Linked DNA regions of Homo sapiens. The protein of the gene in region 1 purifies or fractionates together with the protein of each later gene. This does not show direct contact. Each region holds a gene or a part of one and is shown in the gene's direction. Other genes may lie near its edges.

Region 1 (7,030 bases):
TTTACAATGTGTAAAATGTTTGATTTTAATACAGTATGCAAAGTATATTTACGATATTTTATTTAAAAGCTTTATTGGTCCAAGATCATATTACTTGGGCTTGAGATGTGTGAACGTATGAGCTACTGAATTTTTTTTTTTGAGACAGAGTTTTCCTCTTGTCGCCGAGGCTGGAGTGCAATGGCGTGATCTCGGCTCACTGCAGCCTCCACCTCCTGGGTTCAGGTGATGATTCTCCTGCCTCAGCCTCCTGAGTAGCTGGGATTACAGGTGCCCGCCACCACGCCCAGCTGATTTTTGTATTTTTAGTAGAGATGGGGTTTCACCATGTTGGCCAGGCTGGTCTCGAACTCCTGACCTCAGGTGATCCACCTGCCTCAGCCTCCCAAAGTGCTGGGATCACAGGCAGGAGCCACTGTGCCTGGCTGAGCTTTTGATCTTTAACCAGTGTGATACAACATTTGTTTCTGTGCTTTTCAAGAAATCCTGTCTCATGGTAACCTGGGTGTTGATCTCGTGCTTTAGTTAGTAGCTTCTCCAAGGAGAAGGCGTGTTGAGGTTTAGTTGGAAAAATGGGCTTCTTTGATGGGTCTCACAGTTTTGGTGAGCCGGGATAGCTTGATAGGGTTTTGTTTTTTTTTTTTTTGAGTCAGAGCCTTGCTCTGTCACCCAGGCTGGAGTGCAGTGGCACAATCTGGGCTCACTGCAACCTCTGCCTCCTGGGTTCAAGCGATTCTCTTGCCTCAGCATCCTGAGTAGCTGGGATTACAGGCATGCACCACCATGCCTGGTTAATTTTTTTTATTTTTAGTAGAGACAGGGTTTCTCCATGTTGGCCAGGCTGGGTCTCGAACTCCTGACCTCCAGTGATCTGCCTGTCTTGGTGTTCCAAAGTGCTAGGATTACAGGCATGAGCCACCACGCCCAACCAGCTTGATAGTTTTTGTTTATTCAACAAATATTGAGCACCTGCTGTATGCTAGGCATTGTGCAAGGTGTTAGGGCTGATGCTTGAGCACAGTACCTCCACATCTGCAGTATGGGGAGAGAGAGATGATACCGTGATGAGATCTGTATTAGAGCTGTGACAAGGTGCTGTGGGAACACAGGATTTGTTACATATTCTTAATTTCTTTGGCCACTTAAACAGTTTACTTTTGTGGCACTTTAGAGTGGCTGTGCCCCTGGACGTTGTATACTGAAGTTACATTTACAAATGTAAACTCTCTGATCTAGGTGAAGTAGCTTCAAATAGAAGTGAGCAATATATTTGAATACTAAATTGATCTCTAAATGACCTCTGATGTGTCTTTTTAACTTGAAGATTGAGCATAAGGCTAATGTCCAGATCTGTCTGTTTAAATGGTCCCCCCACCCCCGCCTCCCGTAAGTCAGTAAGTTTGTATTCAAATTTTACATAGTTAAGCTCACTGATCTTTGGATTAGGGTTGTTGTTCTGTTTTTAGGTTCGTGATGGCTGTATTCAAGTATACTTTTGATGGAGTAGGGCATAAGTGATAAGAATGAGTGACATTCAACATGTTGCTGTCTAGACCCAACTTAAAGTCATGTAACTAAGGTATCAGAAAACTTTAATACAGTAACCTATCTGTTTAATAGGAAATTCTACCTTTAACATAGAAAGAAGTTCTCTGTACAGAAAAAGAAATTTACCTATTTCCAGTTTTTTTGTTTGTTTTTGAGAGGGTCTCACTCTCTAGCCTAGGCTGGAGTGCAGTGGCACGATCTCGGCTCACCTCAACCTCCATCTCCCAGTCTCAAGCAATTCTCCTGCCTCAGCCTATAGATAGCTGGGATTACAGGCGTGCGCCACTACCACCCTGTTAATTTTTGTATTTTTAGTAGAGATGGGGTTTTACCATGTTGGACAGGTTGGTCTTGAACTCCTGACCTCAAATGATCCACCTGCCTCTGCCTCCCAGAGTGTTGGGATTACAGGCATGAGCCACTGCACCCAGCTTTATTTCCAGTTGTTTTTATTCCATTAGTTGTTTTTTTTTTGAGACAGAGTTTTGCTCTGTCAACCAGGCTGGAGTGCAGTAGCACAATCTCGGCGCACTGCAATCTCTGCCTCCCGGGTTCAAGCTATTCTCCTGCCTCAGCCTCCTGAGTAGCTGGGACTATAGGCACCTGCTACCATGCCCAGCTAATTTTTGTATTTTTAGTAGATGGGGTTTCACCATATTGGCCAGGCTGATCTCGAACTCCCGACCTTGTGATGTGCCTGCCTCGGCCTCCCAAAGTGCTGGGATTATAGGTGTGAGCCACTGTGCCCAGCTTAAGTAGTCGTATGTTACTTTGATATTTCCAGTCACGGTAAGTATATTGATTACAATGAATTTGTTATTTGAGGACTAGCAGGAGAGTATTTTTTTTTTCCATAACAAAGAAACTTGAAGAAAAAAATTAATTCTGTAGTTTGCAGAGCCGGGAAAAGAAAATCTCCATTTCGTATGACTTCTTTTTTTTTTGAGACAGAGATTCACTCTTGTTGCCCAGGCTGGAGTGCAGTGGCGCGATCTCAGCTCACTGCAACCTCCGCTTCCTGGGTTCAAGCAATTCTCGTGCCTCAGCCTCCCGAGTAGCTGGGATTACAGGCACGTGCCACCATACCCGGCTAATTTTTTGTATTTTTAGTAGAGATGGAGTTTCACCGTGTTGGCCAGGCTGGTCTCGAAATCCTGACCTCAGGTGATCCACCCGCCTCAGCCTCCCGAAGTGCTGGGATTATAGGTGTGAGCCATCGCGCCCAGCCTTTGTATTACTTCTTTTACCAGTAAGACATCGTACCTCTCAGACTATTGATTTGAAATGGGGGTGTGGAGGGGATGATGATACTGGGAGAAAAGGGTGCTTTTGGAAAAACTCCTCTCCCTGGCTTTGAATTCTCATTTTGGATCATTATTTCCCAATAAGAATATCACTGTGTTAGGGCCAGGCACGGTGGCTCACGCCTGTAATCCCAGCACTTTGGGAGGCTAAAGCAGGCAGATCACGAGGTCAGGAGATCGAGACCATCCTGGCTAACACGGTGAAACCCCATCTCTATTAAAAAATACAAAAAATTAGCTGAGCTTGGTGGTGGGTGCCTGTAATCCCAGCTACCTGGGAGGCTGAGGCAGGAGAATGGCTGAGCCCGGGAGGCGGGGCTTGCAGTGAGCCTGGGCGACAGAGCAAGGCTCCGTCTCAAAAAACAAAACAAAACAAAAAAAGAATATCACTGTGTTGATGACAGCTTTGTTTTTCAAAGATCAAAAAAGATTTCAGCCCCTGCAGCTCCAAATAAGAGAGCAGAGTGACTTCCCTGTGATGGTGCCATCTAGTGGGACTGGTTCAGCCTCTTGGGCTGTCTCTTGAATTTCTCCTAACTATTCATAACATTTTTCAGTACTTTTTGATGTCCATAGAAGGAAGAAAGTCAGTGCCACTGTGGATTCTTTCCTAGTGGACAAGAGTGTTACAAGTAGCTACAGCCTTTGAACTTTCTGGTTGTTGTAAATCTTCTGTTGTATAACTTTCGAGTTTTTTCCACCTGCAAATTAGATATACACTCCATTACTTAGACTAAAACAAAATGGCCAAATCTCCACATCTATTACTTATATTTAAGTTGCTCATTACCTATATTTAGGTTTTTAATTTTTTATTTCTAATTTTCTTGCATAGTGCAAATTTTTAATTTTCTTGCATAGTGTGTTTATAGGTAGGTACTCAGTTTCTCAGCATATTTACTTCATAATAATGGTAAAACAAAAGTCATTTATTTTGGGCTTTGGGATGCACTATTTGGTTTTTGTTTAAAAGATTGACGTTTTCTGTCATGAACTGATGAGGGGAAAGTAGTAATGTGCACCCAAAAGTCTATAGCAGGCTCTCTAGTCTAGCTGCCCCTTTTTAGGAGGACCTGGAGCCATCGTCTTAGCAGTTTTGAGGTGATAAGGTTAAACTGGGTTGTGAACCTAGTAATTTTCTGGTTTTTTTTTTTTTTTTTTTTTTGAGACGGAATCTCACTCTGTCGCCCAGGCTGGAGTGCAGTGATGCAATCTCTACTCACTGCAAGCTCCGCCTCCCAGGTTCACGCCATTCTCCTGCCTCAGCCTCCCGAGTAGCTGGGACTGCAGGTGCCTGCCACCACGCACAGCTAATTTTTTGTATTTTTAGTAGAGACGGGGTTTCACCGTGTTAGCCAGGATGGTCTCGATCTCCTGACCTCGTGATCTGCCCACCTTGGCCTCCCAAAGTGCTGGGATTACAGGTATGGGCCACTGCACCCGGCTGCTAGTTCTTTATGTCTTGTTGACTTGACATGTGAGCTGTCCTACCTCTTTTTTTGAGACGGGGTCTCACTCTGTCACCTGGGCTAGAGTGCAGTGGCGCGATCTCGGCTCGCTGCAGCCTCTGCCTCCCAGGTTCAAGCGATTCTCTTGCCTCAGCCTCCCCAAGTAGCTAGGACTACAGGCGTGTGCCACTATTCTCAGCTAATTTTTATATTTTTAGTAGAGATGGGGTTTTGCCATGTTAGTTGGCCAGGATGGTCTCTCTCTCTTGACCTCATGATCCGCCCGCCTCGGCCTCCCAAATTGCTGTGATGACAGGCGTGAGCCACCGCGCCTGGCCTGTCCTACCTCTTTTTAAAGACCTCTTCCTGTAAGCACTGGATGATCTACTTCTAGTAATGTGAAACTGACTATATCTTGAATTCATATGTTTTCAATCAACCTGTTGCAGTTTATATTTCACACCCTGCTCCCTTTTGACAGTTTAAGTACAGATAGTCTCAGCAGTTCTGGAGACCATGTAAAGTAGGCAGAATTTCACCCTTGCATGCATTGTTACTTGTACCTAGTTGGATATCAATGCTAATACAGTAGCAAATACTTATAATACTGTGTGCCAGGTACTGTTCCAACAGTACAACAAAAGCAATAAGAAATGAATTTAGATCTTTTATAACAGGGATAATGGTTAACAAATCTGTACATAATCAACTCACTGGATTAATAGGCATTCTCCATTCTCTCTTTATAAGCCATACTGACTGATGCTTATCACATTGCTCCCACCAGTTGAATTATAGCCATGTCAATGATCATTTTACAATAACTTACACTTGTGTTGTAATTATTCTATTTAATACACAATTGCATAATGCAATGAAATATGATTGCAGGCTGGGCGCAGTGGCTTACGCCTGTAATCCCAGCACTTTGGGAGGCCGAGGCAGGCAGATCACGAGGTCAGGAGATCGAGACCGTCCTGGCCAACATGCCAAAACCCGTCTCTACTAAAAATACAAAAAATAAGCCGGGCGTGGTGGCATGTGCCTGTAATCCCAGCTACTCAGGAGGCTAAGGCGGGAGAATCACTTGAACCAGGGAGTCGGAGGTTGCAGTTAGCCGAGATCATGCCACTGCACTCCAGCCTGGGCGACAGAGCGAGACTCTGTCTCAAAAAAAAAAAAAAAGAAAGAAATATGATTGCAAAATGAAAGAATTGTTTCCAAGAGAACTAAGTTAACCGCCCTAGAAAGACTAGATAAGTCAGCACGCGCCTGTAGTCCCAGCTGCTCAGGAGGCTGAGGCAGGAGAATTGCTTGAACGTGGGAGGCAGAGGTTGCAGTGAGCTGAGATCGCGCCATTGCGCTCCAGCATGGCCAACAGAGTGCGCCTCCGTCTCAAAAAAAAAAAAAAAAAGTAAGTCAGCAAGGAGATATCTGTAAAAATTTATGATATTCTTTTAATCTGCAGGAATTCTTTACTTAAATCCTTGGCAAGTATCTTTTTTTTTTTTTTTTTTTTGAGACGGAGTTTCACTCTTGTTGCCCAGGCTGGAGTGCAATGGCATGATCTCGGCTCACCGCAACATCCGCCTCCCAGGTCCAAGTGATTCTCCTGCCTCAGCCTCCCAAATAGCTGGGATTACAGGCATGCGCCAACACGCCCGGCTAATTTTGTATTTTTATTAGAGGTGGGGTTTCTTCATGTTGGTCAGGTTGTTCTTGAACTTCCGACCTCAAGTGATCTGCCTACCTCGGCCTCCCAAAGTGCTGGGATTACAGGTGTGAGCCAGTGCGCCCGGCGGCAAGTATCTTTTAAGTTCTCACTTTTTTTTTTGGAGACGGAGTTTCACTCTTGTCGCCCAGGCTGGAGTGCAGTGGCATGATCTCTGCTCACAGCAATCTCCACCTCCCGGGTTCAAGCGATTCTGCTGCCTCAGCCTCCCGAGTGGCTGGGAGGTGCCCGCCACCATGCCCACCTAATTTTTGTATTTTTAATAGAGACGAGGTTTTACCATGTTGGCCAGGCTGGTCTCGAACTCCTGACCTCTGGAGTTCACCCGCCTTGGCCTCCCAAAGTGCTGGGATTACAGGCGTCAGCCACCGTGCCCGGGCCAAGGAACTCTTTTTCTATCTTTTATAAATTTTTAAGTCTGATACATCACATTATATAATCAAATTGACTTCTGAAAAGGTATTTAACCAACTGATACCTTTCTTTTCATGTAGTTCATTGCAGCAATTAGAAGCTTTCAGTTATGAATATCTAGTGTCAGCTTTTTCACATACCAAAGTCACTTTCATTTTTTAAAAATGTTTGTATGTCTTACATTTAATTACATGCCTGACAATTCTCAACAAGTATGAATGCTGAGAAATGGCCTATACTTATATTGATGCATTTTAAGGAACTGTGGATTAATTTACTTTAGTATTTATTTGATTTCCTCCTTATTTCACATGTAGTCAAGTACCAACACGTGCCTCTTTCTCTGAAATTTCTGAAGTGTTTTTCTGCCCCCATTGCTACTGCCTTAATCCAGACTGTTTTTATTCATAACTTGAAATTCTAGTTTGGAAGTCTTGCACTCTTTCTGTTCTTTTATTGGTTACCACAGAAATTACAACAGATATTTTTAACTTATCAAAGGTTAATGTTAATACCTTTGTCTTCCTCTTGGTCAGTACGAGGGCCTTGAAGATTTTTTTTTTTTTTTTTTTTTTTGAGATGGG
Region 2 (7,030 bases), on another chromosome or scaffold:
ATGTGTCAGTGTAGGCCATGGATATGTATTATATTCTATGAGTTAAAATTCATTATCATCATTATTTTGTTGCTTACTGTTCCAGCATTGGCTATTTAGTTAGGATCTCCTTCAGGTTAGCTTCTGTGGCCTATCAACTGGCCCTCATTTTTTTTTTTTTCCTTCAAGCACTTACTTTATGGCACACCACAAGGTGTTCCAGGCTCATCTTGTGTTTTCTCTGACCCAACTCTGGAATCAGTTCTTTTTGTCTTTAGCCTATCCAGTCAAGATACCATTTTCTACAGTTACTTAGGTTAGTTCCTTTCTTCCTCATGCCTTTCAGAGTGGTTATGTTAGTTGTAATAGTTAGGTTCATTGTTAGTGTTTATATTTCATTTTGAGTTCCCCCTGCATCCTAGCTGATTTTAGTTGTTTTTGCGGTATGAATTATGACTGATTTCTGAGAGTCAGAGCTACACACAAAGGTATACTCAGAGAAGTGTCTTTCCCTTCTTATGCCTACTGCCCTGTTCCCATTCACCCCTTCTTTTCACCGCTTTCCCACCTACCCTGTATAGCTAACTTTGGTATCTGGATTATCTCGTGTTTCTTTCGCACAAGTGAACAGTTAGTTGTGTATTTTTTCACATCCTCTTCTTTCTTATACGAAGGTGACATGCTATATAGATAATTGTGTTTGCTTTTTTCACTTAATAGTATGTTTTAGGCCAGGCGTGGTGGCTCATGCCTGTAATCCCAGCACTTTAGGAGGCTGAGGTGGGCAGATTGCCTGAGGTCAGGATTTCAAGACTAGCCTGGCCAACATGGTGAAACCCCGTCTCTACTAAAAATACAAAAAAATTAGCCGGGTGTGGTGGTGGGCACCTGTAATCCCAGCCACTTGGAAGGCTGAGGCTGGAGAATCGCTTGAACCTGGGAGGCAGATGTTGCAGTGAGCCGAGATTGCACCACTGCACTCCAGCCTGGGTGACCGGCCGAGTGAGAATCCATCTCCAAAAAAAAAAAAAAAAAAAAAAAAGAATAGTGTGTCTTGAAAATCACCCCATATCTGTTCATAGAGATCTTCTTCATTCTTTTTTTTTTTTTGAGACGGAGTCTCGCTCTTTTGCCCAGGCCTGAGTGCATTGGCGCTATCTCGGCTCACTGCAAGCTCCGCCTCCCGGGTTCACGCCGTTCTGCTGCCTGAGCCTCCCGAGTAGCTGGGACTACAGGCGCCCACCACCGCGCCTGGCTAATTTTTTGTATTTTTAGTAGAGACGGGGTTTCACCGTGTTAGCCAGGATGGTCTCGATCTTCTGACCTTGTGATCCGCCCGCCTCAGCCTCCCAAAGTGCTAGGATTACAGGCATGAGCCACTGCGCCCGGCCCCTCATTAATTTTTAAAAACATCTTTATTGAGGCCAGGCATGGTGGCTCACGCCTGTAATCCCAGACTTTGGGAGGCTGAGGTGGGCAGATCATTTGAGGTCTGGAGTTTGAGGCCAGCCTGACCAACATGGTGAAACCCCTTTCTACTAAAAATACAAAAAAAATTAGCTGGGCATGGTGGTGCATGCATGTAGTCCCAGCTACCCGGGAAGCTGAGGCAGGAGTATCGCTTGAACCCGGGAGGCAGAGGTTGCAGAGAGCCGAGATCGCGCCACTGCACTCCAGCCAGGGCGACAGGGCGAGACCCGGTCTCAAGAAAACACAAACAAGCAAAAACATCTTTATTGAGATATAATTTACATACCTTACAATTGACCGATTTAAGTATACAATTGAGTGGTTTTTAGTACATACACAGTTATGCAAGCATCATCGCAATACATTTTAGAACATTTTTATCACCCTTAAAAGAAACCCTGATCCATTAGCAATTAGCAGTTACTTCCCATCCTGTCTTCCCCCAGCTCTAGGCAACCACAAATCCACTTTCTGACTTTATAAATTTGCCTGTTTTGGACATTTCATGTAAATGGGATCATACAATATGTGGTATTTTGTTACTGGCTTCTTCCACTTAGGATAATGTTTTCATGGTTCATCCATGTTGTCAGTGTTTCATTATTTTTATGGCTGAATAATATTCCATTTTATGGATATACCACCTTTTGTTTATCCATTTATCAGTTGATGGATTTTGGGTTTCTACTTATGCATTATTTTGAATTATGTTGCTATGAACATTGCCTCATTAATTTTTACAGCTGCATAGTACTTCATTACATGAATGTACCATAGTATGTACCATAGTACGTTATAATAGTTTATTCATCTACTCTCCTATCTATGGCCATTTAAGCTGCTTCCATTATCTTGCAGTTACAAACAGTGCTGCACGGTGAATAATTCTGTGCATATGTATTTTTGTATTGTTGGAGGTACATATTCAGGGTAGTTTCTAGAAGTGGAATTGCTGGGTTGAAAGGTAAATGCATATGTAGTTTTCTCAGATATAGTCAAATTTCCCTCCAGAAGGGTTGTACCAATTTCCAACAGTGTATGAGAATAGCGCCTGTTTCTCCACAACCTCGCCAACAGTGTGTGCTGTCATGCTTTAATTTTTGCAGTGAGAAATAGTGTCTAGTGTTGTTTTGTTTTAATATGCATATCTCTATGAATGATTTGAACATTTTTTCATATGTTTTAGAGCTAGTTGCGTCTTCTTTTGTGATTTATCTGTTCGTATTTTTTCTCCATTTGTCTACCAGGTTTTTGTTTTTCTGTTCTTTAGCTTTTTAAAAAAAATTGTGATAAAATATAAGCAACATACAATTTATCTTTTTTTTTTTTTTTTTTTTGAGATGGAGTCTCCCTCACCAGGCTGGAGTGCAATGGCGCGATCTCGGCTCACTGCAACCTCCACCTCTTGGGTTCAAGCAATTCTCCTGCCTCAGCCTCCCGAGTAGCTGGGACTACAGGCGCGTGCCACCATGCCCAGCCAATTTTTTTGTATTTTTAGCAGAGACAGGGTTTCACTGTGTTAGCCAGGATGGTCTCCATCTCCTGACCTCCTCATCCGCCTGCCTCAGCCTCCCAAAGTGCTGGGATTACAGGCGTGAGCCACTGCGCCTGACCCAATTTATCATTTTAACCATTTTTTAAGTGTGCCATTTTGTGCCATTAAATACATCCACATTGTTATGCAGCCATCACCACCATCCATCTCCGGAACTTTTTTCATCTTTTCAAACTGAAACTCTGTATCCATTAAACAGGAATTCCCATTCTTCCCTCCCCTAGCCCTGTGGCCACTATTCTACTTTCTGTTTCTATGAATTTGACTACTGTAGGTACGTTATATACATGGAATCGTACAATATTTGTCTTTTTATGACTGGCTTATTCGACTTACTGTAATGTCTTCAAGGTTCATCCACGTTGTAGCATATTTCGGAATTGCCTTCTTTTTTGTGACATGTGTCAGGATTACCTTCCTTTTTAAGGCTGAATAATAAATGTTTCATTGTATGTATATACTACATTTTGTTTAGCCATTCATCTGTCATGAACAGTTGGGTTGCTTTCACCATTTTTTTTTTTTTCTTAGCTTCAGCTTAAAGGAGGCCACCTTTCGACTATTGTAAGTAATGCTGTGTCCCTCAGTTGTAAAACGTTATTTATTTATTTAAAATAGTATGGTGCTCTTGTCACCCAGGCTGGAATGCAATGGCGTGATCACAGCTCACTGTAGCCTCAACCTTCTACCTCAACTGCCCTGAGTAGCTGGGACTACAGATGTGTACCACCATGCCCTGGCTAATTTTTAAATTTTTTGTAGAGATGGAGTCTCTCTGTGTTGCCCAGGCTGGTTTTGAACTCCTGGCCTCAAGCAATCCTTTCACCTCGGCTTCCCAAAGTGCTGGGACTAAAGGTGTGAGCCACCATGCCCATCCTGTTTCTCAGTTTTTAAGAGCTGTTTGTATATTAGGGGTATTAGTCCCTTGTCAGTGGTATATGTTGCAAATATTTTCTCCCAATTTGTTAGCTTTTAATTTTTTTTCTGAGTTTTTAAATTTTTTTTTGTCATGCAAAAATTTTTAAATTTTTATGTAGTTAAATGTATCACTCTTTTACTGTTTGTGAATTTTAAATCATATTTGGCCCTTCTCTACTACGTAATACTAAGTGTTAATACAAAGGTTAAAGAGGAATTCACCAGTATCTCCTTTAGTAGTTGTATGGTTTCATTTTTTATCATTTAGATTTCTAATTCATTTGCAAGTTTATTCTTGTGAGTTATCTTTTTCCAACAGTGAATACTGTTCCAGCAGTATTTAATACAAAGTTCATCTTGACTCTAGTGATTTGAGATGCCATCTTTGCCATATTTTTTATTTCCATATGTACTTGAGTCTAATTCTGGACCTCATCTTTTTGTGTACATATGCAGCAGTACCTCACTGTTTCATTATGAAGGCTTTGTACAGTAGGTTTTAATGTCTGTTATACCTATCCCCCCTTACAGTTTTTTTTTCATTGTTTTCCTAGTCTTAAATTTTTGTTTTTCCATATGAATTTTAGTATCAACTTGTCAATATTATCTTGTCAGTATTTGTATTGGGATTGCATTGAATGTATAAATTAACTTGGGAAGAACTGACATCTTTATATTTTTGAATCCTATCCAGGAACAGGGGATGTCATTTCATTTGTTCAAGTTAACTTTAGTGTCTTTTAATAGTGATTTAAACTTTTTCTTGCACAGTTTTAATTAACTTTATTCCTAAGTATTTAATGATCTTGTTGCTATTGCAAATGGGATTTTTCTCTACCATAATGTCTTCTTTTATGGTTTGTATATATGAAGGCTATTGATTTTTATGTATTAATCTTATATTGTGCAACTTCACTGAGTGTTGTTTTTTTTTTTTTTTTTTTTTTTTTTTTGAGAAGGAGTCTCACTCTGTCGCCCAGGCTGGAGTGCAGTGGGGCAATCTTGGCTCACTGCAACCTCCGCCTCCTGAGTTTAAGTGATTCTCCTGCCTCAGCCTCCTGAGTAGCTGGGATTACAGGCATGCGCCACCATGCCCGGCTGATTTTTTGTATTTTTGGTAGAGACAGGGTTTCACCATGTTGGTCAGGCTAGCCTCGAACTCCTGACTTCTTGATCCTCCTGCCTTGGCCTCCCAAAGTGCTGGGATTACAGGCGTGAGCCTGTAATTTTTGTATTTTTGGTAGAGACAGGGTTTCACCGTGTTGGCCAGGATGGTCTCGAACTGCTGACCTCAAGCAATCCACCCACCTCAGCCTCGCAGAGCACTGGGATTACAGGCATGAGCCACCATGCCCCGCCTGCTGAGTTATTATTGAATAAATTTTATCATTGATTTTGGGGTTTTCCAGGTAGTATATCATATTATCTACAATTAGTGATAGCTTTTCTTTACCCTTTTTTTTTTTTTTTTTTTTTTTTGAGACGGAGTTTCGCCCTTGTTGCCCAGGCTGGAGTGCAATGGTGCAATCTTAGCTCACCACAACCTCTGCTTCCTGGGTTCAAGCAATTCTCCTGCTTCACCCTCCCGAGTAGCTGGGATCACAGGCATGCGCCACCATGCCCAGCTAATTTTGTATTTTTAGTAGAGACGGGGTTTCTCCATGTTGGTCAGGCTGGTCTTGAACTCCCGACCTCAGATGATCCACTCACCTCAGCCTCCCAAAGTGCTGGGATTACAGGCGTGAGTCACTGTGCTTGGCCTTTACCCATTTTTATATCTCTAATTGATTTATCTCTTCTAATTTTATTGGCTAATATTGCACAGGTGGATAGTAGCAGAGATAGTGGACATTTTTGCTTTGTTCTTGATATTAATCTCTGAAATTAATGGACATGCCTCTGAAATAAGGTTTGCCCATGAAATAAGATTTTGGCTTTAGGACTAAGGTGTATTTATATATTAAAGTATCTCAATTTCTGTATTTTCCTGAGTATTTTTTATTATGAATAGATATTGAATTTTGTCAGACTTTCCCTTCTGTGGAGATAATCATGTAATTATTTTTCCCTTAGATGATTACATTGTGTTTTCACATGTGATGTGTGTTTTTTTGTTAGTATCTATTTTTTATTTTTTTATTTTTGATACGGGGTCTCACTTTGTCACCCAGGCCGGCATACAGTGGTGCAATTACTGCTTACTGCTGCCTCAACTTCTCAGGCTCAAATGATCCTCCTCCGTCAGCCTCCCAAGTAGCTGGGATTACAGGCATGTGCCACTATACCCAGCTAATTTTAAAATTTTTTTTGTAGAGATGAGGTCTCCCTATGTTGCCCAGACTGGTCTCAAACTCCTGCCTCAGCCTCCCAAAGTGCTGGGATTATAGGCAGATTACAGTCATGAGCCACCATGTCTGTCCGTTAGTATTTCTTTAAATTTCTCCAACATTTTCATTGCATTTCCTTTTATCTGGAAGTTGTTTATCAGGAGATTCTCAAATTTTTAGATAGACACACCTTTCTTCTGTTGGTGGTGATGGTCGTGTTAGTAAATTCTAGTTTTAAGCATTATGATTGGCAAGTGTTGTTTTTAGTATCTTTACTTGATGGAAGGTGTTTTCTTTGTGACATGAGCAGTTTTTGTGTGTGTGTGTGTGTGTGAATGTGCTGTGAGCACTGGAGAAGAATATATCATTTCTGTTATCAAGGTGTGGAGTTTGATATACATCTATATCATCTCCTCTGTTATGTTGTTTAGATCAATCATCTGTCTCCTCATTTTTTCTCCACTTGATTTGTCTTTAAAAAAATTTTTTTTTTTTGAGACAGGGTCTCACTGTGTATCCCAGGCTGGAATGCAGTGGTGTGATCATGGCTCACTGCAGCCTTGAACTCCTGGGTTCAAGTGATCCTCCCACTTCAGTCTGCTCAGTAGCTGGGACTACAGGTGCATATCACCATGCCTGGCTAATTTTTATTTTATTTATTTATTTATTTATTTATTTTAGAGATGGGGGTCTCACTATCTTGCCCAGGGTGGTCTCGGACTCCTGGAGTCAAAGGATCCTCCAACCCCAGCCTCCCAAAGTGCTGGGATTACAGGCATGA

Evidence for each region.
Region 2: the proteins of TLK2 (region 1) and CABIN1 purify together in Homo sapiens (affinity purification with mass spectrometry; 3 studies listed by BioGRID and IntAct, with this or other methods). This does not show direct contact.

Annotation. Positions count from the first base shown.
Region 1 is NC_000017.11:62,481,822-62,488,851, forward strand, and holds part of TLK2 (serine/threonine-protein kinase tousled-like 2), read left to right. Parts: intron 1-7,030. UniProt on the Homo sapiens protein: Serine/threonine-protein kinase involved in the process of chromatin assembly and probably also DNA replication, transcription, repair, and chromosome segregation. Phosphorylates the chromatin assembly factors ASF1A and ASF1B.
Region 2 is NC_000022.11:24,014,274-24,021,303, forward strand, and holds part of CABIN1 (calcineurin-binding protein cabin-1), read left to right. Parts: intron 1-7,030. UniProt on the Homo sapiens protein: May be required for replication-independent chromatin assembly. May serve as a negative regulator of T-cell receptor (TCR) signaling via inhibition of calcineurin. Inhibition of activated calcineurin is dependent on both PKC and calcium signals.